3 linked regions of the Homo sapiens genome follow. The protein of the gene in region 1 interacts with the protein of each later gene in a pairwise test. Each region holds a gene or a part of one and is shown in the gene's direction. Other genes may lie near its edges.

Evidence for each region. Proteins that work in one complex are often made in the same cells at the same time.
Region 2: the proteins of PACSIN2 (region 1) and GSC2 interact in binary tests that used the Homo sapiens proteins (3 or more experiments, as listed by UniProt).
Region 3: the proteins of PACSIN2 (region 1) and PBX4 interact in binary tests that used the Homo sapiens proteins (3 or more experiments, as listed by UniProt).

Annotation. Positions count from the first base shown.
Region 1 is NC_000022.11:43,005,149-43,012,169, reverse strand, and holds part of PACSIN2 (protein kinase C and casein kinase substrate in neurons protein 2), read left to right. Parts: intron 1-7,021.
Region 2 is NC_000022.11:19,147,291-19,154,247, reverse strand, and holds the start of GSC2 (homeobox protein goosecoid-2), read left to right. Parts: upstream 1-3,955; 5' UTR 3,956-3,964; coding exon 3,965-4,223; intron 4,224-4,331; coding exon 4,332-4,585; intron 4,586-5,152; coding exon 5,153-5,257; 3' UTR 5,258-6,957. UniProt on the Homo sapiens protein: May have a role in development. May regulate its own transcription. May bind the bicoid consensus sequence TAATCC.
Region 3 is NC_000019.10:19,615,686-19,623,696, reverse strand, and holds the start of PBX4 (pre-B-cell leukemia transcription factor 4), read left to right. Parts: upstream 1-5,009; 5' UTR 5,010-5,067; coding exon 5,068-5,186; intron 5,187-8,011.

The DNA of each region.
Region 1 (7,021 bases):
TATGTATGTATGTATTTATTTATTTTGAGACAGAGTCTCGCTCTGTCGCCCGGGCTGGAGGCAGTGGTGCGATCTCAGCTCACTGTAACCTCTGCCTCCCAGGTTCAAGTGATTCCCCTGCCTCAGCCTCCTGAGTAACTGGGACTACAGGCATCCACCACCACGCCTGGCTAATTTTTGTATTTATAGTAGAGACGGGATTTCACCGTGTTGGCCAGTATGGTCTCGATTTCCTGACCTTGTGATCCACCTGCCTTGGCCTCCCAAAGTGCTGGGATTACAGGCACCTGCCACCTTGCCTGGCTAGTTTTTGTATTTTTAATAGAGATGGGGTTTTACCATGTTGGCCAGGCTGATCTGGAACTCCTGACCTCAGGTGATCTGCCCACCTCAGCTTCCCAAAGTGCTGGGATTACAGGCGCCTGCCACCTTGCCTGGTTAGTTTTTGTATTTTTAATAGAGATGGGGTTTCACAGTGTTGGCCAGGCTGATCTGGAACTCCTGACCTCCAGTGATCTGCCCGCCTCGGCCTCGCAGATGTCCTTGCCTTTTGTTTCTTCTCTATACCTTGAAAGTCTGTGCTGTGTTAAGGGCGTCATGCTCAGGCTTACTGATTCTGAAGGGGTTATCAGTGGATGATTCCGGATGTTGTGGAATATCAAACAGATCGAAAAGTTTCTTTAATAATAGTGATGGCACCTTGTGTTTAGAGTTCGCAGTGGCATTTACCAGATGCTCTCTGGCCACCTTCATGTGAACCTCCCAGCTGACTCGGGCCTGCTTTATCTGCCATCAGATTGTAATGGCAGCTTTGTGGAGGCCGCCCTGTAGATTATGCGATTAATGACCACATTCATGTGAGCAATAGTGCTGGCTTAGTTTTTTTCCAGTTAGGTTGTTTGGAATGGTAGCTGCATACCTGAGGGCAGTGCAGCAATGCCTTAGTTACGAAGGCAGTTTGCATTCCACAGGTAGAGTCTTTCCTTATGGCCAGGGCACTGATCCCTCACATACCAGAAAGTATCATTCGTCCCTGCCCCAGACAGACTCCAGATGCGTCCCAGTGGTGGTTCTTGGGATAGTTTTGTAGGAATTTCTGCAGAATTTTAGTGTTCAGATGAGTATGCTCTGTCTGTGGACTGGAGACAGGCTTCAAAGAATTCTCAAATTATTCTGCACAATACATCATTTTTTGGTATCTCTGCAGTTCCAAAGGTAACTACTTGAGGGACAGTGGCCACCAAAGAGCACAAGTTTTGACATTTTGATGAAAAGCACACATAAAACAAATAAAAACCACCTTTCCTTAAGTTACCTATTGAATTGTGCTTATTCCCATAAATGCATGTTCATCTGTTTGCTTAATAAAACTTAAAGCACCATAGAGTCTTTCTTGTTTCCTAGAATAAGGTCTTTTTTCTTTTCCTTTCTTGTCTTTTTTTGTTGTTGTTGTTGTTGAGACGGAGTCTCGCTTTGTTGCCCAGGCTGGAAGTGCCCTGTGGTGTGATCTTGGCTCACTGCAGGCTGCGCCTCCCGAGTTCATGCCATTCTCCTGCCTCAGCCTCCCAAGTAGCTGGGACTACAGGCGCCCGCCGCCACACTTGGCTAATGTTTTGTATTTTTAGTAGAGACGGGGTTTCACTATGTTAGCCAGGATGGTCTTGATCTCCTGACCTTCGTGATCTGCCCGCCTCTGCCTCCCAAAGTGCTGGGATTACAGGCGTGAGCCACCGTGCCTGGCCGGTCTTTTTTATTTTCAATTAAAAAAAAATATATATATATATGTATTTTTAAACAGAGATGGGATTCCGCCATGTTTGCCAGGCTGGTCTCAAACCCCTGGCCTCAAGTGATCCTCCCATCTCGGGTTCCCAAAGTGCTAGGATTACAGGTGTGAGCTACCACACCTGGCCTATTTTCAATCCTAAAAAAATCATTTGCGTGTTTCTTGATTTTAGGCACTGAACTAGACGGAGATGAGAATATAGAAATAATAAAATGGGGCTGGGCGCTGTGGCTCACACCTGTAATCCCAGCACTATGGGAAGTAAAGGAGCAGATCACTTCAGGTCAGGAGTTCGAGACCAGCCTGGCCAACATGGTGAAACCCCATCTCTGCTGAAAATACAAAAATTAGTCGGGTATGGTGGCGTGCGCCTATAATCTCAGCTACTCGGGAGGCTGAGGCAGGAGAATCACTAGAACCCGGGAGGCAGAGGCTGCAGTGAGCCGAGATTGTGCCACTGCACTCCAGCCTTGGGTGACAGAGCAAGACTCTGTCTCAAAAAAAAAAAAAAAAAAAAATAGAAAAAATAAAATGATGTCTCAACTATCAAAGACCTCGCAAGAAGCCTTAAAAATGATAAATAAGGCTAGAGATTTTGCTGTACCTTTGGAAAGTGCATGTGTGGTGGTTTATAGTACATATTCTGTGGCCAGATAAAATTTATATGATTATTTTTCCTCCCAAGAATATGAGATGACAGAGGGGGAGGAGCGTGGATGGAGACTAGGAGCCTTGGGCTCTTGTCCAGCCTTTCCCTGACCAACCCTGAGGTCTGGGACAATCAGCACAGAACTCCAGGTCTCAGTTTTCATATTTGTAAAATGAAGGACTTAGAGGACCTTCACCTTTTGCAAATCTGATAGCAACTGTGACCCCTTCCCACGAAGGGGGACAGCTTCATAGGCGTGGACCCAGATTAAGAACTGGATTATTCCATCTCTAAGCTCCCTCTCACCTGTGATATTCTGTAATCCTATTTTCCTGGTCATCTTTGAGCTAATAATAATGATGACTTGTATTTATAGAAGATGCACATTCCAAAGCACTTTCACCTCTCATTCTTTTGTCCTCAAAACATTTCTGAGTGGTACAGGTGGCAATAGATATTCCTTCCTGTGATGAAGAAAGTGGGCCAGGCTTGGTCAGCACGTTGATGGAGCAAACAGCCAGAGGCCGTCCTGGGACCAGAACTGGGGCTCCTGGTTGCCATCCTGGGGCTTTTCCATTAGGTTTTGCTTCCTTGGTGGTTGTCATTATGAGTTATGTTTGGCAGTTCAAATATCCCAGAATGTGTCACTCGTAGAGGAAACTATTTGTTCATCTGCCGGAAAGGACTGTTTTTCTCTCTGAATTTGGATCACTAAACACCTTTTCTGTATGTGAAAAGGCTACTTATTTGTTTTTGTTATTTTTTCTTGCCACATTTTTCATAGGGACAGTTTGTAGGGCTTGAGTGTTTTGAGCAGACTTATTTAATGCTTATTGATGAAAGAGTACATTAAAATGACTACTTCTCAGTTGCTTAGCACTTGAGAAAGTTGTGAAATAAATGTTAAGTAAAAATTCCAAATGTCTCACTTGTCCTATCCAAGTATGTCCTCACAGATGAGATGCTTTCTGCAGTCTAGGAGGCCCCTCCCTGGGCCCAGAGCCGCTGGGTGGGTTTGAAAGTTGGGTGTGGATTGTGCCAGTGGCCAGGACTGTCCAACAGTGGCTGCTTGTGGCCTTCTGGCTAGATTCCTAACATTTTATGGACTAATTTTTTTGGTTTATTGAAAGAGTACACATTCTGAGCTATATAAAGAGCTCATATATGTAAAAGAACACTGAACTTAGGCCGGGCGTGGTGGCTAACGCCTGTAATTCCAGCACTTTGGGAAGCTGAGGTGGGCAGATCACAAGGTCAGGAGTTTGAGACCAGCCTGGCCAATATGGTGAAACCCCATCTCTACTAAAAATATAAAAACTAGCTGGTCATGGTGGTGCGTGCCTGTAATCCCAGCTACTGGGGAGGCTGAGGCAGGCGAATGGCTTGAACCCAGGAGGCGGAGGTTGCAGTGAGCCGAGATTGTGCCACTGCACTCCAGCCTGGGCGACAGAGTGAGACTCTGTCTCAAAAAAAAAAGAAGACCACTGAATTTTAGAGCCTCACAGATGTTAGGTGGCTTATTTCTGATGAAAATAATCATAATAAAGATGTTTTTTATTTTTATTTTTTAAAAGAATACTTCTGATGTATTTCTGAAAGCTGTTTTGAATACTCAGACATGGAAGCTGATAGTACTGCACACAGCAGGCATCACTCAATGTGGAGTGTGTGTGGAGAATCCACCTGTCTTCCTGTTATGTCATGTGTGATGTGACTATTGATAGAGTTGCAGCCAGCTGGGGCACTCCATTAAGCTGCCCGTGGAAGTACCTGCTTTTTATTTTCATTTCACTCCCTGGACTGAGAGTGTTTGGAGGATATCTCAGTGGCTCATGTGGAGGGAGCATCTGTGGGTGGAAGGCAACAGGCAGGGTGAGTCAGAGGTAGTGGTCCTGGCCACTGCATGCCTGGTGCCCCTGGCTCTGCCTGCAGCTCTGGAATCCTGAGATAAAGATGATGGCTGCTCTGTAAAGGCAGCTCAGTATAGGCAGCAGGCCTGGAAACTTCTCTTTTCATTGTGGCGGTACCAGATAGTAGTGTGTACAAAGTACTGCACGACAGAGGAGGGCGGGTCTGACTGTCCTCAGGACACTACAGAGAGCTGACCTTCAGGGAAGTGACTTGGGAGGGATTGTGCCAGAGCCACAGGTGCTCTCCAGGTGGGGCTGACGTGAAGGACCATTCTGGGCAGAGCTACAGAGCTCTGAAGAACAAGGAGTGGCTGGGAGAGAGGGGTCACGCCTGTAATCCCAACACTTTGGGAAGCTGAGGTGGGCGGATCACTTGAGGCCAGGAGTTTGAGACCAGCCTGGCCAACATAGCAAAACCCTGTCTCTACTAAAAGTACAAAAATTAGCTGGGCGTGGTGGTTTGTGACTGTGAACCCAGGTACTCGGGAGGCTGAGGCAGGAGAATCGCTTGAACCTGGGGGCAGAGATTGCAGTGAGCCAGGATAGTGCTACTTCATTCCAGCCTGGGTGACAGAGCGAGACTGTCTCAAAAAAAAAAAAAAAAAGAACAAGAGGTGTGTGTGAGAGGGGCTGCTAGGGGCAGGGAAGGCTCCAGGTTATGACCTGCCTTATATTCTCCTGGAGGACAGTTCACTGGGGAGCAGTTTCTGGGTATTTAAAATACCGGGATGAAGATCTTCAGAGAAGCAAGATGTCAGTTGAGAAGTCAGGGATGCAGATGGGGGAGGGGTGATTCAGGTGACTCAATTTCACAAAGGTCACCTCTGTCTCTGGGAGTCTCAAGGATTGCCATCTGTGTTCCTAGGAAGCAGTGGCTCCACTCTAATGAGAAGGGCTTTTCGAGTGGGAATGGCCTCAGCCTTGACTCATTCTCTTAACCTGCATTTACGTGTTTGGTTGAGAATGCAGTAGCTGTGTGGGTTCTGCTTCTCTTTCTTTTTTCTTTTTTGAGACGGAATTTTGCTCTTGTCGCCCAGGCTGGAGTACAATGGTGCGATTTCGGCTCACTGCACCCTCCACCTCCCAGGTTCCAGTGAGTCTCCTGCCTCAGCCTCCCAAGTAGCTGGGATTATAGGCATGCGCCATCATGCCGGGCTAATTTTTGTATTTTTGGTAGAGATGGGGTTTTACCATGTTGGCCAGGCTGGTCTCAAACTCCTGACCTCAAACGGCCCGCCTGCCTCTGCCTCCCAAAGTGCTGGGATTTCAGGCATGAGCCACCGTGCCTGGCTGTTTCTCTTTCCATATGGTTTATGCTTACAGATCCTTGAGGTTAATATGTCACTTTCACTGTTAGTTCCTACAGAAGAAAGGTAATTTTGCAATAAGGTTTTGGAGGTTAGGAACATGGTTTTGGAGTCATACAGCCCTTGGGTGTGGGTTCGAGCTCCATCACTAGGTGACTGTGCGGCTTTTGGCCAAATGTTTCAATGTCTCCAAAACTTGAGTGTCTTAGTCAGTTGGGGCTGCTATAACAAAGATGCGGTGGCTTGTAAACAACAGAAATTTCCTTCTTACAGTTCTGTAGGCTGCAAGTCTGAGATCAGGGTACCAGCATGGTTGGGTTCTGAGGAGGGTCCTTTTTCATGTTGCGGATTGCTGACTTCTTATAGCTTCACATGACAGAAAGAAGGCGAGAGAGCTCTCAGGTACTTTTTATAAAGGCATGAGTGGCTGAGTGCAGTGGCTTATGCCTGTAATCTCAACACTTTTGGAGGCTGAGGCAGGAGGATCACTTGATGCCAGGAGTTCATGGCCAGCCTGGGTAACATAGTGAGACCCTATCTCAACAAAAACTAAAAAAAAAAAATTGTAAGGACACTAGTCCCATTCATGAGGGCCCTGCCTAATTAGCTTCCAAAGGCCCTACTTCCTAATGCCATCAAACTGAGGGGTAGAATTTCAACATATGAATTTTGAGGGGATCCATACATGCAGTCCTTTGCACCAGGATACTGAGAGCCCTTCCTCATAGGATTTTGGCGGGGCAGCATGAGGTGATGGACCCCAGGAGCCCAGCATGTGTGCCTGGTCACAGTGCTCATTCAGTCACTCTCCTATCAGTCTACGTAAGTGAATTTGCCAGCAAACTATACCTTTAAAGTGCCCAAAGTGATTTTATCCAGTTCTATTTAAAAATCCTTCCAGAACTTTTTGGACCTTTCCTTGGTGACTCGGGGTCACGGGTGTAGTCGCAGGTCATTGGTGTGGGTGAGGCCTCCTGCCCTGGCCCTGCATGGACTCCCCTCATATCCTGGCACTTACAGGGCCTGTCTTTCTCCCCACCACCTTTTGTAAGCTGCTGTTGGCACCTGGCCCTTTTGTTGGGGTAAGGGCCTGATGATGGTCATATCCTCCCTGGGTTTTGAGGGCAGCCTTGCCATGCAGAGAGGCCTTGCTCTCTTCTGGGTTGGTAATTCTCTGCCTGAGTTTAATGTGATGGATTCTAGAAAGCCTGACCCTGGGGTGAAGGGATGTTGCTTGACTACACGTAGTGACTCAGGATTGGAAGGGAGTACTGGTAATGATAGCTTATCCCTAGGTGATGGGAAATAGGACTTAGAAAGCAAATGATAAAGGTGTGAGCACTGCTCACCTGTGTGAAATTGTATTAAG
Region 2 (6,957 bases), about 24 Mb from region 1:
GCAAGACTCCATCTTAAAGAAAAAACTTTTCTTTATAGAGATGAGGGTCTTGCTATGTTGCCCAGGCTGGTCTTGAACTCCTGGCCTCAAGTGATTCTCCCACCTCAGCTTCCCAAAGCATTGGGATAACAGGAGTAAGCCTCCATGCCCGGCCCTAAATCTTGCTTTTTGAATCATATCTTCTTTCTTTTTATTATTGGTAGCTAGAAGAAGCCAAGTAGCACCTTGAACTTTCTCTCTGGGTATGTCCTTAGATCATTTTATTCTTGGGAATACTATCTAGCTTCTATTTCCTATTTGGCTACAGGTGACAATGTTGCTAAACTTCCTGCCACTGCATAACAATGGTCTTCTTTCCTCCATCTTCCAGTAACAATTTCTTCACTTTCCTCTAAGTCCCCACTGTCAGCCTCTGCAAGGTCCTCCCAGCTCCTGGACACTGCCCCATCCCAAAGCCAATGTCACATGATTTAGGTTTTGTATCAGCAGCACCCACCCCACTTCCAGTACCAGATCCCGTTCTGCTTATCTATAGTTATATAACAAACCACATCAAACTTGGTGCAGTAAAAACACCCAGCATCATCTATTTTATTATATTTCATAGTCATGGGGCTTGACTGGGCTCAGGGAGGGGATTCTCAGTTTTGGTGTCTCCTGTGGTTGCAGTCCAATGGTGGCCGGGGCCAGAGCCATCTGGAAGGCTTCCTCACTCACTTGTAGGTGACCCGTGCAGGGGGTGGATGGGTCCTTCAGCTGGTGCTGCTGGCAGGAACACGCCTATCCTCTCCCGAGGCTGCCTGTGCCCCTCACAGCATGGTGGCTGGGTGTAAAGATCAAGCATCCCAAGATGTGTGAGAGAGAGAGAAGGAGTTGGGTTGCTGATCTGATCTGTGTGACTCTGTGTGTGACTTGGCCTCAGAAACCACACGATGTCAGTTCTGCTGCATTCTATGGATTACAAGCAAGTCGTGAAGGCCAGCCCATGTTTCAGGAAGAAACCCAATTAAACTCCCAAAGGGAGCAGCATCAGAGAACCTGCCAGCATGTTTCAGAGGCGCCAGAGTGGCCAGGCACGGTGGCTCACACCTGTAACCTCAGAGCTTTGGGAGGCTGAGGCAGGTGGATTGCTTGAGGTCAGAAGTTCTAGACCAGCCTGGGCAACATAGTGAGACCCTATCTATAATTTTTTTTAAATTAGCCAGGCATGGTGGCGTGTGCCTGTGCTCCCAACTACTTGGGAGGCCGAGGTGGGAGAACCTCTTAAGCCCAGGTGTTCAGAGGCTGCAGTGAGCTATGGTCACCCACTGCACTCCAGCCTGGGTGAAAGAGCGAGACCCTGTCTCAAAAGTAAAAAAACAAACAAAAAAGGCCGGGCGTGTAATCCCAGCACTTTGGGAGGCCGAGGCGGGCAGATCACAAGGTCAGGAGATCGAGACCATCCTGGCTAACATGGTGAAACCCCGTCTCTAATAAAAATACAAAAAAAAAAAATAGCTGGGCATGGTGGCAGGCGCCTGTAGTCCCAGCTACTCGGGAGGCTGAGGCAGGAGAATGGCGTGAACCCGGGAGGTGGAGCTTGCAGTGAGCTGAGATCATGCCACTGCACTCCAGCCTGGACGACAGAGCGAGACTCCGTCTCAAAAAAAAAAAAAAAAAAAAAAAAGGGAGGGGGGCAGGCCAGGCAGGCACGGTGGCTCATGCCTGTAATCCCAACACTTTGGGAGGCTAAGGCAGGCGGATTGCTTGAGCTCGGCAGTTTGAGACCAGCCTAGGCAACGTGGCAAAACCCCCCCAAAACAGAAACATTAGCTGAGCATGGTGGTGCACCTGTAGTCCCAGCTACTTGGGAGGCTGAGGCAGGAGGATCACTTGAGCTCAGGATGCCAAGGCTGCAGTGAGCCATGATCACACCACTGCACTCCAGCCTGGGTGACAGAGCAAGACCCTGTCTCAAAAAATAATGCAAAATAGAAAATAAACTTTTTGAAAAAGTGCCACAGTGGGCCATTTACCAAGGTGGACTGGTAAAGAGGCAGGGCACACGCAGAGGCAAATAGGTAGAAGAGAATGAGCACTAGAGATGGACAGGTGGGCAGTGGCCCATTTGTAAAAGTGGAGAACATAGGGTAAGAAAGGGATTTTGAGAAGACCTTGAGTTCCTTTCTGGCATGGTGACTGGGAGAACTTTATTGGTAGTGGAGATGGAGATGTGGAGCAGGCTCCAGAAACAAGAGCGTGGAGCAGAGAGAGAGGCCAGGCTGGAGGTGCACTTGTGAGTCACTGTCACAAAGATGGTGTCTGGAGCTCCAAGGCTGGAATAGGTATTGAGGGTGAGAATGGGAAAGGATGAAGGAATGGCCAGGGCTAGGAGGAAGAGGGCTCAGCAAATGTTGGGCTGGCTCTCCTGACCAATGACCCTGCCTCCCCCATCATAGCAGCACTCTGATTTTGGAGGATGGTCCAGATGCAGTTCTGTGAGGGAGGTCTGCTGAGGGAGGAGGGATCCATGGCCATCCAAAGGGCCATGGGAGGAGATGAAAAGTGTGGGGCTGTGGCAGCCATTCTACCACCAAGAGGTGGGTGGAGGAGGGGTTGACAGAGCCACTCATGGAGGTGGCAGCTCATCACTGAGCCTCCAGACTACCCCTGGGAAACCTATGTGGGAGCTCTTGTGACAGAAATTAAATCAGCAGGTTCGGTCACAGTGATGTCCACAGCACTTTCACTGATAGCAGAGTGGGGATGGCAGAGTCTTGCAGAGGGGCTGGCGGCGGGAGGAGCGCAGGAATACGCATTGCCCTGGGGAGGCGGCCAGGTTCTAACCGTCTCACACCTAGTCACTACACTTTACAGATTGGGAAAGCCAAGCCCAGAGGCTGAAGACGCCTATGGAGGTCACACGGCCAGAAATTGACAACGGAGTATGAGCCAGGCCGTCTGTTTCTCTGTGCTATGAGTCCCATACTGTATTTTCAAAGGTCAAGAGGAAAGGGTCTTAAGCTGAAGTGACGGTCCCGCTGCCAGGAGCCGCTTCACTGAGGGTGAAACAATGTAGCCAAGTGCGGGTCACCTGCGCTGTGGCAGAAGGGACCGAGGACGGTGTGGCCAGAGGACTGGCCTGGGCGGAGAGCGAGGAGGGGGAGCCCACAGCTTCTGGGGGGCAGTGACAGTGCGGGGAAGGGCGAGGTGCAGTGTTGGATGTTTTCGCGGGGATTCTGGGACCAGTGGGAAAGCTGGAGGACAGGCGGCTCTGAAGCACCGAGGAGGGGCCTCGGAAGGGGCGGGGAGGTCTCCTTGACACAGGTGAGGAGACGGAGAACTGGGGGCACCCGGCAGCCCAGGCTTCCTGCCGCGCTCTCACGCCCTCCAGGGCCATGAGACCCTGGCTCCGAGGTGGCGGGCAGGTTCGGGACCCGAGCGCGGCGGGATCGTGCGGTTGCCGGTGGTGCTGGGCCCCATGGAGGCTGCGGTCCAGGAGTTTCGGGTGGGCGGCTAGGCCGAGCTTCTGCAGGCGTGCTGAGCCGCCGCAGTAGGGCCCCAGAGGGGACGAGGAATTAGGCCCAGCCGAACGAGGGGGAGCCACCAGAGGCTGGGCCGGGAGGCACCGCCGCGCTCTGGGGAGCTGCCAGGGTCGGGGCGCCCTCCGAGCGGCTGCCAGGCCCCGCGGGCGGCGGCGAGGCGGCCCTCCGCCCCTTCCCCGCAGGTCGCCCTGCCAGCTTGAGCGGCGGGCGCGGGTGGGGCAGGAGGACGCGGGGCGGGGTGGGGGGCACAGGGGGCCCTCTCTGCAGCGCCCCCGGCCCCCGCGCGCGGAGGCAGGGCCGCCGCAGTCGAGGATTAGCGCGTTCGCGGCCGGCGCTGCGGGATTAACCCGCGTGGACTGGACGCCCGGCCCGGGGATTACTGCGCGCTCCCTCCCCGACGTATATATTCCCGCGGCGGCGGCGCCCCGGCCGGGCCGGGCATGGCGGCAGCGGCTGGGGGCGCGGCGAGCCGCCGGGGTGCCGGGCGGCCCTGCCCCTTCTCCATCGAGCACATCCTCTCCAGCCTGCCCGAGCGGAGCCTCCCGGCCCGGGCCGCCTGCCCACCGCAGCCCGCCGGTCGCCAGAGCCCCGCGAAGCCAGAGGAGCCCGGGGCGCCCGAGGCTGCGCCCTGCGCCTGCTGCTGCTGCTGCGGCCCCCGCGCGGCGCCCTGCGGGCCCCCAGAGGCGGCCGCCGGGCTGGGTGAGTGGGCGCGGAGCGGGGCGCGGGGCCCGGCGGAGCCCGGGGCGCGGCGCAGTGGGTGCCGAGCTTGGCCCCAGCCCCGCGCCTCACCGCGCCCTCGCTCCGCAGGCGCTCGTCTGGCGTGGCCGCTGAGGCTGGGACCGGCGGTGCCCTTGTCTCTGGGTGCGCCAGCCGGAGGTTCCGGGGCGCTCCCGGGCGCGGTCGGCCCGGGTTCGCAGCGGCGCACGAGGCGCCACCGCACCATCTTCAGCGAAGAGCAGCTGCAGGCGCTCGAGGCGCTTTTCGTGCAGAACCAGTATCCTGACGTGAGTACGCGCGAGCGCCTGGCCGGCCGCATCCGCCTTCGCGAGGAGCGCGTGGAGGTGAGTGCCCCGCCCAGCCTTTCCCCGGAGCGCGCGGGCCGCGGCTACACTGGACTGGGGTCCTGGCGGGCGGGCGCCCTTTGCAAAGACGGCCTCGGCCCAAGCCCCGCCCTGGCGCGCCGGAGGGAGGAGGTCCCTGGACGGCGCTGGGCGTCCGGGGGTATGAGGAGCGGGTGAGAGCAGGGAGGTGCCGCGGGAAAGGAACCGGAGGGCTACTTTTCTTTTCTTTTGTTTTACACTTTCCTCTGGTGACGAAAGAGGCCCGCGTTCACGTCCAGAATTTGGGAAATTCAGAAGAGCCCGCAACCCAAGAAGGGGCGTCCTGGTCGCCGCCAGCTGGAGGCTGGGGCGGGTACTAAGGGGGTTCCCATCTCGCGTCCAGACCCACCGAGTCTGTCCGCAGCGAATAAGGGCAGGTGGCGCGCAGCCGCGGCCCGGGTGTCGGCTCTACAGCGCCGTCCGCCCACATCCCTGTTGCGAAGCTCCCCTCTCGGTCCCTGTGGGACCCTCGGGAGCCGGTGGGACGCAGGACCTGGGGCTAGGGCTGAGCATTCCCCCCATCCCCAGGTCTGGTTCAAGAACCGCCGGGCCAAATGGCGACACCAGAAGCGCGCGTCGGCTTCCGCGAGGCTCCTGCCCGGCGTCAAGAAGTCCCCGAAGGGGAGCTGCTGATGACTCTAGGAGCTGCCCCTGGGCTCGGCCACCCTTTTTGGGATCTTTGGAGTTGGCGCTGAGAGAAGACAGGTCTACCCGAAAAGGAGCTGGGAGAGTACACCGGCCGCCTCCACCCGTCTCCACAGCCCTTGCCTCCTGCAGCTCGTGCTGCCGTGGCGCTGGGGACGGGCCCCCGGTGCTTGGTGTTCCACGGCAGTGGGAGTGGCGAGTCCCTTGGGGGTGGGCTGGGGCATAGAGCAGTTTCCTCAGCTCCCTACCCCCCGAGAGACACTAACTCCACCGCAGGAGGGGAACCACCCCGTATCAACACGGGACCCAGAATCCTACGCAGTGGAGCGTCTCTCCGCACCCTGGGACATGCTGGCCACCCTCTTCTCAATGTGGACATTGACCTAACTTGACCTGGCTCGTCCTCCCCCAGCGGGAGAGGGGATGGGGTTCGTGTCTGTGCAGTCCTGGCGTTGCAGGCTTCCCAGGCCCTGGGCTGGGTCTTGGTATCTGGACCTGTAGAATAAGAAGGTCGCAGGAGCGATTCCAGGAGCCCCTCCACAGTCCCTTCACCTTCGAGCCTCGCGCTGATACTGAGAAACTAGCAACTTCAAATACCACAGAAGCCGCCCAGAGTCTCAAGTCCACCTTGGCTCCACTCCCACACCCAACAAGGAGCTGTCCCTTCTTCTTCCTTCCCAGCGAGGGGGTATTTAGGGTACAGCTGTCTTTGAGAGGAGCACAGCTCAGCGATCCTCAGTCTCTGCACCAGGGTGCTCCCCAGCAGAGGGGACTGCTCCACGGATGGTGGCCTTGGACCCCTGGGGTCCAGCCCTGGCCTCTAGGCTACTGTGAACCTGCCCATGGGTGAGGGTCCCCTGCTTCCTCCTGGGGTTTTCATGCTGTGGGCTCGGACTCCCTCACAGCAATCTGTGCCATCCTAGGGTAGGGCAAGAGGAGGTTGGACTGGGGAGACCCCGCCCCTGCTGCCTGGGAAGATGCCTGCCCTCCCCTTCTTTATCCTGGCCCATGGCAAAAGGCACAGTGGAAAGAAGCCTTAGATTCCCCAAGTAGGCCCTACAGTGGGTCCAAAGCATCTCACATCCCCACCCCCAGCTGGCTTGAGCACCTCGTTCTGTCTCCTTACAGGCCCTGCAGGGAATGGGGCCATTCTACCTGCAAGAGATGAAGTCCATCTCTAAAAGCAGGACTGCAGAAGCCAGGGCTGCAGCTCCCCAGACACCCCAAGGCTGGCCAGCTTGGATAACACCAAGCAAGCATGGTGTCCCCAGTCAGAACTGCCCTGACACTGCTGGGTGTCCCTAGCATCCCCGCCTCCACCCCTAGCATGCACACAAAGCCCTTCTCCCTGAACCCTGGTCTTGCCCTTGGGGACTGAACAGACTACCTGTGGACATGCCCGTGTCCCAGTCAGCTCCCTTGCAGCTGGGGACACTCGCATCTCACAGGCTCCAGGCCCCTTGAGTTCCTTGGTTGAATGGCCATCTGTCATTGTTTTGGGAGCCCCGATCAGAGCTTGTGGAGCGCCACCTTCCAGGGCTCAGTGGCTGTGTTGCTCTCCTGAATTTGCTTCTTGAGCTCTAGCTGCTCCTTGGCAGGCTGACCCCCCACAGCAGGCTATTAACATAGGCATCCTTCACGCTCACACCCAGGCGCTCGCTTCTCATCTTCACCCTCTTCCCGGTTTA
Region 3 (8,011 bases), on another chromosome or scaffold:
TACAAGGAGTAAACCTTTCTTTACACTCTGAGGTCTCCAAAACATTTGTTGTTATCAATTCAGTGTTTCTGTCCCTGTGTCCCGGAATTGTCTACCTTGGCCCAAGTCCAGAAAGGATCTTTCAACATGGTATCTCCTTGGCCCTGTGCTCGCTCTTCTTCAGTCTGGCTGGCTGTTATTCCATCTCTCTCTTTTTTTTTTTTTTTTTTTTTAGACAGAGTCTCACTTTGTAGCCCAGGCTGGAGAGCAGTAGCACAATCTCAGCTCGCTGCAACTTCTACCTCCCAGGTTCCAGATTCTTGTGCCTCAGGAGAAGCTGGGATTACAGGCGCGTGCCACCACGTCCAGCTAATCTCTGTATTTTTATTTTTATTATTTATTTATTTGTTTGTTTATCTTTGAGAGGGAGTCTCGCTCTGTCACCCAGGCTGGAGTGCAGTGGCTTGATCTCAGGTTACTGCAACTTCTGCCTCCTGGGTTCAAGCGATTCTCCTGCCTCAGCTTCCCGAATAGCTGGGTTATAGGCATCTGCCACTACACTCGGCTAATTTTTGTATTATAGTAGAGATGAGGTTTCACCAATGTTGGCCAGGCTCGTCTCAAACTCCTGACCTTGAATGATCCACCCACCTCAGCTTCCCAAAGTACTGGGATTACAGGTGTGAGCTACCGCGTGCCTGACTAATCTTTATATTTTTAGTAGAGATGGGGTCCCACCATGTTAGTCAGGCTGGTCTCGAACTCTTGACCTCAAGCGATCCACCTACCCACCTTGGCCTCCCAAAGTGCTGGGATTATAGGCATGAGCCACCACGCCTGGCCCCTCTCTCTTACTGGGGTCTTGAATCTGTTTCTCTCTGCTTCTGTTCTTTGTTTCCCCCATCTGTTGCTCTGCCTCCATCTCACTGCCTGTCTCCCTGTCTTTCTCTGCAGCTCAGAGTAGTGTCTGGACCCTATGAGCCCCCTCCCTCCCCACTGCCCTTTTGTTTGAGCCCTGATGGTTCAAGGTCACGTGCCCAGCCGTTTCTATCCCATTCCCCACCACCTGTATTCATACTTCCAGCCACAGGTTGTGGGGTTCAGGTAGTGGGATGCAGGATTTGAGCATGACCATTTCTCAAGCTCTTCTGATGTGCCTGGCATACTGGTAAACACTTTAGGTGCTTTTTTTTTTAAATTTTTTATTTTTTTGTGATGGAGTGTCACTCTGTCCTCCAGGCTGGAGTGTAGTGGTGCAATCTCGGCTCGCTGCAACCTCCGCCCCCGGGTTTCAAGCGATTCTCCTGCCTCAGCCTCCCAAGTAGTTGCGATTACAGGCACCTGCCACCGTGCCCGGCTAATTTTTGTATTTTTGTTAGAGATGGGGTTTCACCATCTTGGCCAGGCTTATCTTGAACTCCCGACCTTGTGATCCACCCGCCTCGGCCTCTCAAAGTGCTGGGATTACAGGCATGAGCCACTGTGCTGGGCTTTTTTTTTTTTTTTTTTTTGAGACGGAGTCTTGCTCTGTTTCCCAGGCTGGACTGCAATGACGTGATCTCAGCTCACTGCAACCTCTGCCTCCCAGGTTCAAGTGATTCTCCTGCATCAGCCTCCCGGGTAGCTGGGATTACAGGGATATGCCACCACACCCAGCTAAATTTTTTATTTTTAGTAGAGATGGGGTTTCACCATGTTGGCCAGGCTGGTCTCGAACTCCTGACCTCAGGTGAGCCGCCCGCCTCAGCCTCTCAAAGTGCTGGGACTATAGGCGTGAGCCGCCATGCCTGGCCTTTTTTTTTTTTTTTTTTTTTTGAGACAGAGTCTCACATGATCTCAGCTCACTGCAACCTCCGCCCCCTCCAGGTTCAAGCGATTCTTCTGCCTCAGCCTCCCAAGTAGCTGGGACTACAGGCATGCACCACCATGTCTGGCTAATTTTTTGTATTTTAATAGAGATGGGATTTCACCATATTGGCCAGGCTGGTCTTGAACTCCTGACCTCATGATCCGCCTGCTTTGGCCTCCCAAAGTGCTGGGATCAGTCTTTCTGATTTTTATGTGAGAACACTGATTCAGACAGGTTGTGATCTGGCCCATGGTAAACACAGCTTGGAGATGGCACATACAGGCCCCGAGGGACCAGAGAGGCCCCTAGGAAAGGGACTTCAGATTCCCACGAAGCCCAGGGTTGGTCCCAAGCTCAGCTGGGCTTTCCCTACCTCACCCCACAGCACCCAACCCATGAGTGCCAGATCCATCATGAGCCCCCTCTGAGATGCTCAGGGAGGCCCCCTCCAAGGCACAGTGTGTGCCAGGATGTCATTCTCTGCTCCCACCTCACCAGTGAGGAGGTGGGGTTATGTCCCTACTTTTGAATCCCATGCTGAATAACAGCTAGAATTTGAACCCAGGTCACTCAGAGATGTGAGCCGCCATGCCCAGCCACCTGTGCCAAATTCTTAAACCACTGAAATATGCATTGTCAAAGAACCCAAAACTCCCAGGTCCTTCTATATTAAATGGCCCTGGCCGAGCACTTTGAGTGCCAAGGCTGCCAACTAATTTCTATGCAGTAGAGACCCCTGATGACCTCCAAATGGCAACAGTGGGACGGGTGAGGTGGCTCATACCTGTAATCCCAGCACTTTGGGCGGCCGAGGCAGGCAGATCACCTGAGGTCAGAAGTTTGAAACTAGCCTGGCCAACATGGTGAAACCTCATTTCTACTAAAAATGCAAAAATTAGCCGGGCGTGGTGGTGGGTGCCTGTAAGCTACTCAGGAGGAGGCTAAGGCAGGAGAAGTGCTTGAACCCAGGAGGTGGAGGTTGCAGTGAGCCAAGGTCACGCCACTACACTCCAGCCTGGGCAACAGAGTAAGATTTCTGTCTAAAAAAAAAAAAAAAAAAAAAAGGCAACTCTGTCTCAGGCGCTCTGAGCTGGCTGTTCACATCAGCTCCTCCAGGTTTTAACCTGCACCCCGTGGGTCTCCTTCGAGACCATTTCCTCTTGTCGATCTCCCGTCTCCACCAAGTGGCTTCAAATTTTTGTCTCTGCTGGTCCCTGAAGCTTTCAGTGCCCACCCCTCCAAGTTCTCTGAAGGATACTACTTTGTTGGGGTTGGGGGCAGGTTTTGCTCTCTCACCCAGGCTGGAGTGCAGTGGCACAAACACAGCTCACTGTAGCCTCGACCTCCTGAGCCCAACTTATCCTCCCGCCTCAGCCTCCCAAGTAGCTGGGACCATGACCAGCTAATTTAGCTATTTTTTTAATTTTTATTTTTGTAGAGATGGGGTCTCACTATGTTCCCCAGACTGGTCTTGAACTCCTGGGCTCAAGTAATCTCCCACCTCAGACTCCCAAAGTGTTGGGATCATAGGTGTCAGCCACTGCACCCAGCCTGAAGGCCACTACTGTTCAGGCCTCCTGGGCAGTGCTGTGCTTGTGGGTGACCTTTTGAACAGGCACTGGTCTCCGTGGCTCCCATGCAATCTATTACTTTCTGTCATTGGAGCCAAGTGTCGGTTTCCTTCATCAGAGAGCTTTCCCTATTGTCCAGACACTCGGTCAATGTCTTTCATTTTTCACTCCCTGCCGTCCCCTTTGGAGTCTCCCGACGCTCTCCAATCCAGCCATACCAGATGGTGTTTGAATTTCCTCCCCAGCAGCAATGGAGAGAACGTGGGCCCCACCCTGGAAGGGCTCCCAGCCAGCAGGCTGAGGACCTTTTACTGAGCCCACATCTGGAGACTGTCCTCATAGCAAATAGGCTCCAGGAGGTTCTGTGACTTTGGAGAAGAGATTCATGTCCAGGCCATTACTTTTTTTTTTTTTTTTTTTTTTTGAGACCTGGTCTCCGTCAACCAGGCTGCAGTGCAGTGGTGCAATCATGGCTCACTGCAGCCTCAAATTCCCAGGCCCAAGTGATCCTCCCACTTCAGCCTCTCAAGTCCCAAATAGCTGGGACCACAGGCGTGCACCACCACGGGGTCTCACTATGTTGCCCAAGCTGGTCTCAAACTCCCGTGCTCAAGTGATCCTCCCGCCTCTGCCGCCCAAAGTGCTAGGATTACAGGCATGAGCCACCGCCCAGTTCCTTTTCTTGTGCACTAGGAGCCTTCGATGCTGTGTCCTAAGGACTAGAAACAAAGATGTGAGGATTCGCTCTGATTTGGGGTACACTGCAGGGGAGTCTCTCAGTAAACATCCTTCCTTCATTCGGTAACCACGTGGTAGCATTTTCTATGCCCAGAACTGTAATCTGCGAAGATGAATAAACAAGCGAGGTCACTCTTCAGCTGGACCTTGAAAGGTGACTGGAATTGATTTCTGCAGTGGAGAAAAGCGCTGCGTTCTGACCTCCTCGTTGCCATCAACCACGCACGCCTGCGCCCCGCCTTAGCCAGGTGAACGGGGCGTGGAAAGCTCTAGAGGAAGAGCCAGGGGCCCCAGTGGCCCACCTGATGGGGCTGAGGATGCAGGGAGCATTAGGGGGACTGAGCAGGGGTCTGGGGCTTGGGGCTTCTGGAAATGAATGGGGGCTGTCGATCAAGCTATAAGAGGTGTGGGGTTCTGAGGAGGAGGGGGTGGCTTGGAGGAAGAGTTGGGGTGCTCTGGGGAGTGAGGGTCTCTGAGGACCGAGGGCTTTGAGGAGAAGGGGGCCCTGAGGAGGAGCAGGAACTCTGAGGAGATGCGAGTGGGGCTGAAGGAGGCGTGCACCGCGCGAGATGTGAGGGATGGGGGCCTCTGGCTGGAGCGGAGCCAGCGCTGCCCTCTCTCAAGGGGAAGGAGGGCGCTTATGAGAAGTGCCGTTGCCTCGGCAACCCCAAACCCAGTCCAAGCCCGGAGAGGGGGAAGTTCGGGGCGAGTCCCGGGGGCGGTGCGTGGCGCCGGTTGGCTGACGGAGATGAAGGGGCGTGTCTGTAGGCGGTGCAATACACGGGTTGGCTGGCGATAGCGGCGGTGGGCGTGGCTTAGGCGCGAGCGAGAGCGGGCGCGGCGCTCAGGCAGCGGCGGTTGGCTGCGGCGCCAGTGGTAGTGCTCCAGGCTCGACGGCACCCTCACAGCGCCCGCCCGGCCCTGCCGCTCATGGCCGCCCCGCCGCGCCCCGCGCCATCGCCCCCCGCCCCGCGGCGCCTCGACACGAGCGACGTCCTGCAGCAGATCATGGCCATCACCGACCAGAGCCTGGACGAGGCACAGGCCAGGTGCTGCCCGCGGGCTCGGCAGGGGCCACGCAGGGTCGTGGCAGTGAGGTTGGCGGGCTGAGGGGACGGGGCGTGGAGGCCAGACTGACGAGGGGCGCTTGAGGAGGGCTGGAGGGGGGTCCCGAGGACGAAGGGATGTATGGGGTTCAAACGGAACGGGCTGGATAGGCCTTATGGGGCCGAGCAGTGGCGTGAAGGATTTTCAGCAGCTCATCTTGGGGCGAGAAGGTTGGGTTTAGGGGTTTAGGGAGTAGGGCTGAGAAATGGGCACGTACGGGACTTTTGACGAGTGAATGACTAAATGGGTACGTTAATGGGACTCCTGCGGCTGGAAGTTTTTTTGTTGTTGTTTGACACGGTCTTGCTCTGTCGCCCAGGCTGGAGTGCAGTGGCGTGATCATGGCTCACTGCAGCATCCACCTCCCCGGCTCAGTTGATTCTCCTGCCTCAGCCTCCCGAGTAGCTGGGACCACAGGCGCACGTGCAACCACGCCCGGCTGATTTTTTTGTATATTTTGTAGAGACAGGGGTCTCGCTATAGTTGCTTAAACTCCTGGGTTCAAGCACTCATTCCGTCTCGGCCTCCCTAAGTGCTGGGATTACAGGCGCGAGCCACCGAGCCCGGCCTGTGGGTGGGAAGTTTCCAGGGCAGATGATGGAGAGTGAGTGGCTGGGAATGGGACTCAGGAATGTCTGCAGGAGACTGAAGAACTGAACTGGGGTAACTTGGTGTGGGAACCATCGAGAACTTTTGGGAAAAGGGTTAGTAGAGGAGTGGGTGGAGATGGAAGACCTATTTTCTTTTTAATGAATTCAGCAAATTTTTATTGAATCCTTACAATAACTGGATAGGGAACCGGGTGCTGACATAGTCCCTGCTCTCGAGTACATGATTTAGGGGAGGGAATGTAAATAGCAAAAAATAAGGACTGGGTGGAGTGGCTCACATCTCTAATCACAGCACTTTAGGAGGCTGAGGCAGGAGGATTGCTTGAGCTCAGGAGTTCGAGACCAACCTGGACAATGTAGTAAGACCTCGTCTCTACTAAAAATAAAATTAAAAAATTAGTTAGGTGTGATGATGCAAGCCTGTAGTCCCAGCTACTTAGGAGGCTGAGGCTGCAGTGAGCCGAATCAAGCCATTGCACTCCAGCCTGGGTGACAGAGCTAGACCCTGTCTCAAACAAAAGCAAAAAAGTATAAGCCAGGCATGGTAGCATGGGTAGGTAATCCCAGCTGCCTCCCAGTGGGAGGATCACTTGAGTCCAGCAGTTTGAGACCAGCCTGGGCAACATAGTGAGACCATCCTGTACCAATCTGAGAAAAGAAAAAAATAAAATAAATGGCAATAAAAGCTGTAGGGATAGGGGTTGCATGCTATAGGAAGCCAGGTGGAGAAGAACATCTTTGGAGAGGACAGCACCTTCAGAGGCCCTGAGGTGGGAAAGAGGATGTAAAAAGCGGAGTCTGGCTGGGAAGAGAAAGTTCCTAGCCAGGGAGGGAAAGAGTTGAGTTTAAAGGAAGGCTGGGGCCAGGTGCGGTGGCTCACGCCTGTAATCCCAGCACTTTGGGAGGCCAAGGCAGGTGAATCACGAGGTCAGGAGTTCAATACCAGCCTGGCCAACATGGTGAAACCCAGTCTCTACCAAAAATACAAAAATTAGCTGGGTGTAGTGGTGCACACCTATAATCCCAACTACTTGGGAGGCTGAGGCAGGAGAATCACTGGAACCTGGGAGGCGGAGGCTGCAGTGAGCCGAGATCACACCACTGCACTCCAGCCTGGGCGACAGAGCGAGATTCCGTCTGAACAAAAAATAATAATAATAATAAAGGGAGACTGGAACCCAATTACATGGGGCCTACGAATCTCAGTAAAGAGTTTTGTTTGTTCAGCCAGGCACAGTGGCTGACACCTGTAATCCCTGCACTTTGGGAGGCCAAGGTGGGCAGATCACCTGAGGTCAAGAGTTCGAGACCAGCCTGGCCAACATGGCAAAACCCCATCTCTACTAAAAATACGAAAATTAGCTGGGCGTGGTGGTGCATGTCTATGGTCCCAGCTACTTGGGAGGCTGAGGCAGGAGAAACACTTGAATCCAGGAGGTGCCTGGGTTCAAGCGCCACTGCATTCCAACCTGGGCGACAGAGTGAGACTCTGTCTCCATAAAAAAATAGTTTTGTTTTTGTCATCTGGATAACAATCAATAGGGAGTTCGGACTATTTATTCCAGTTGCAATGGGGAAAAATAAAGGAGTTTTTAGACCTCCCATCCCGTTTACCTCCACTCACCACTTGTCAGCCAGCCAGGATCCGTAGAATCTGCTTCACAAGGCAGCCCACTGTGTCTGGGTCCTGCAGTGATTATTACAGAAAAGGAAAGGAAAGGACTGAAGTCCTTTTGGAGGATGAGGCCTTGTTGAATGGGGACTGTTGTAAGGTGAGGGACGGTCTCTGGGTATGGGACTAGGGTCTGGTGGTGTGGACTGTGTACCCACTAGAGCCCTGTAGTGGGGAGGGGTTACAAAGCCAGGTAAACAGCAGTCCTAGGAAGGAAGAGGCAGATAAAAAGGTGGATAATGCATGCATTTGTTCTTCAATGAATTGTGTGTGTGTGTGTGTGACGGACTCTCACTCTGTTGCCCAGGCTGGAGTGCAGTGGCGCTATCTCGGCTCACTGCAACCTCTGCCTCCCGGGTTCAAGCGATTCTCCTGCCTCAGCTTCCTGAGTAGCCGGGACTACAGGCATACGCCCCATGCGTGGCTAGTTTTGTATTTTTAGTAGAGATGGGGTTTCACCGTGTTGGCCAGGCTGGTCACAAAT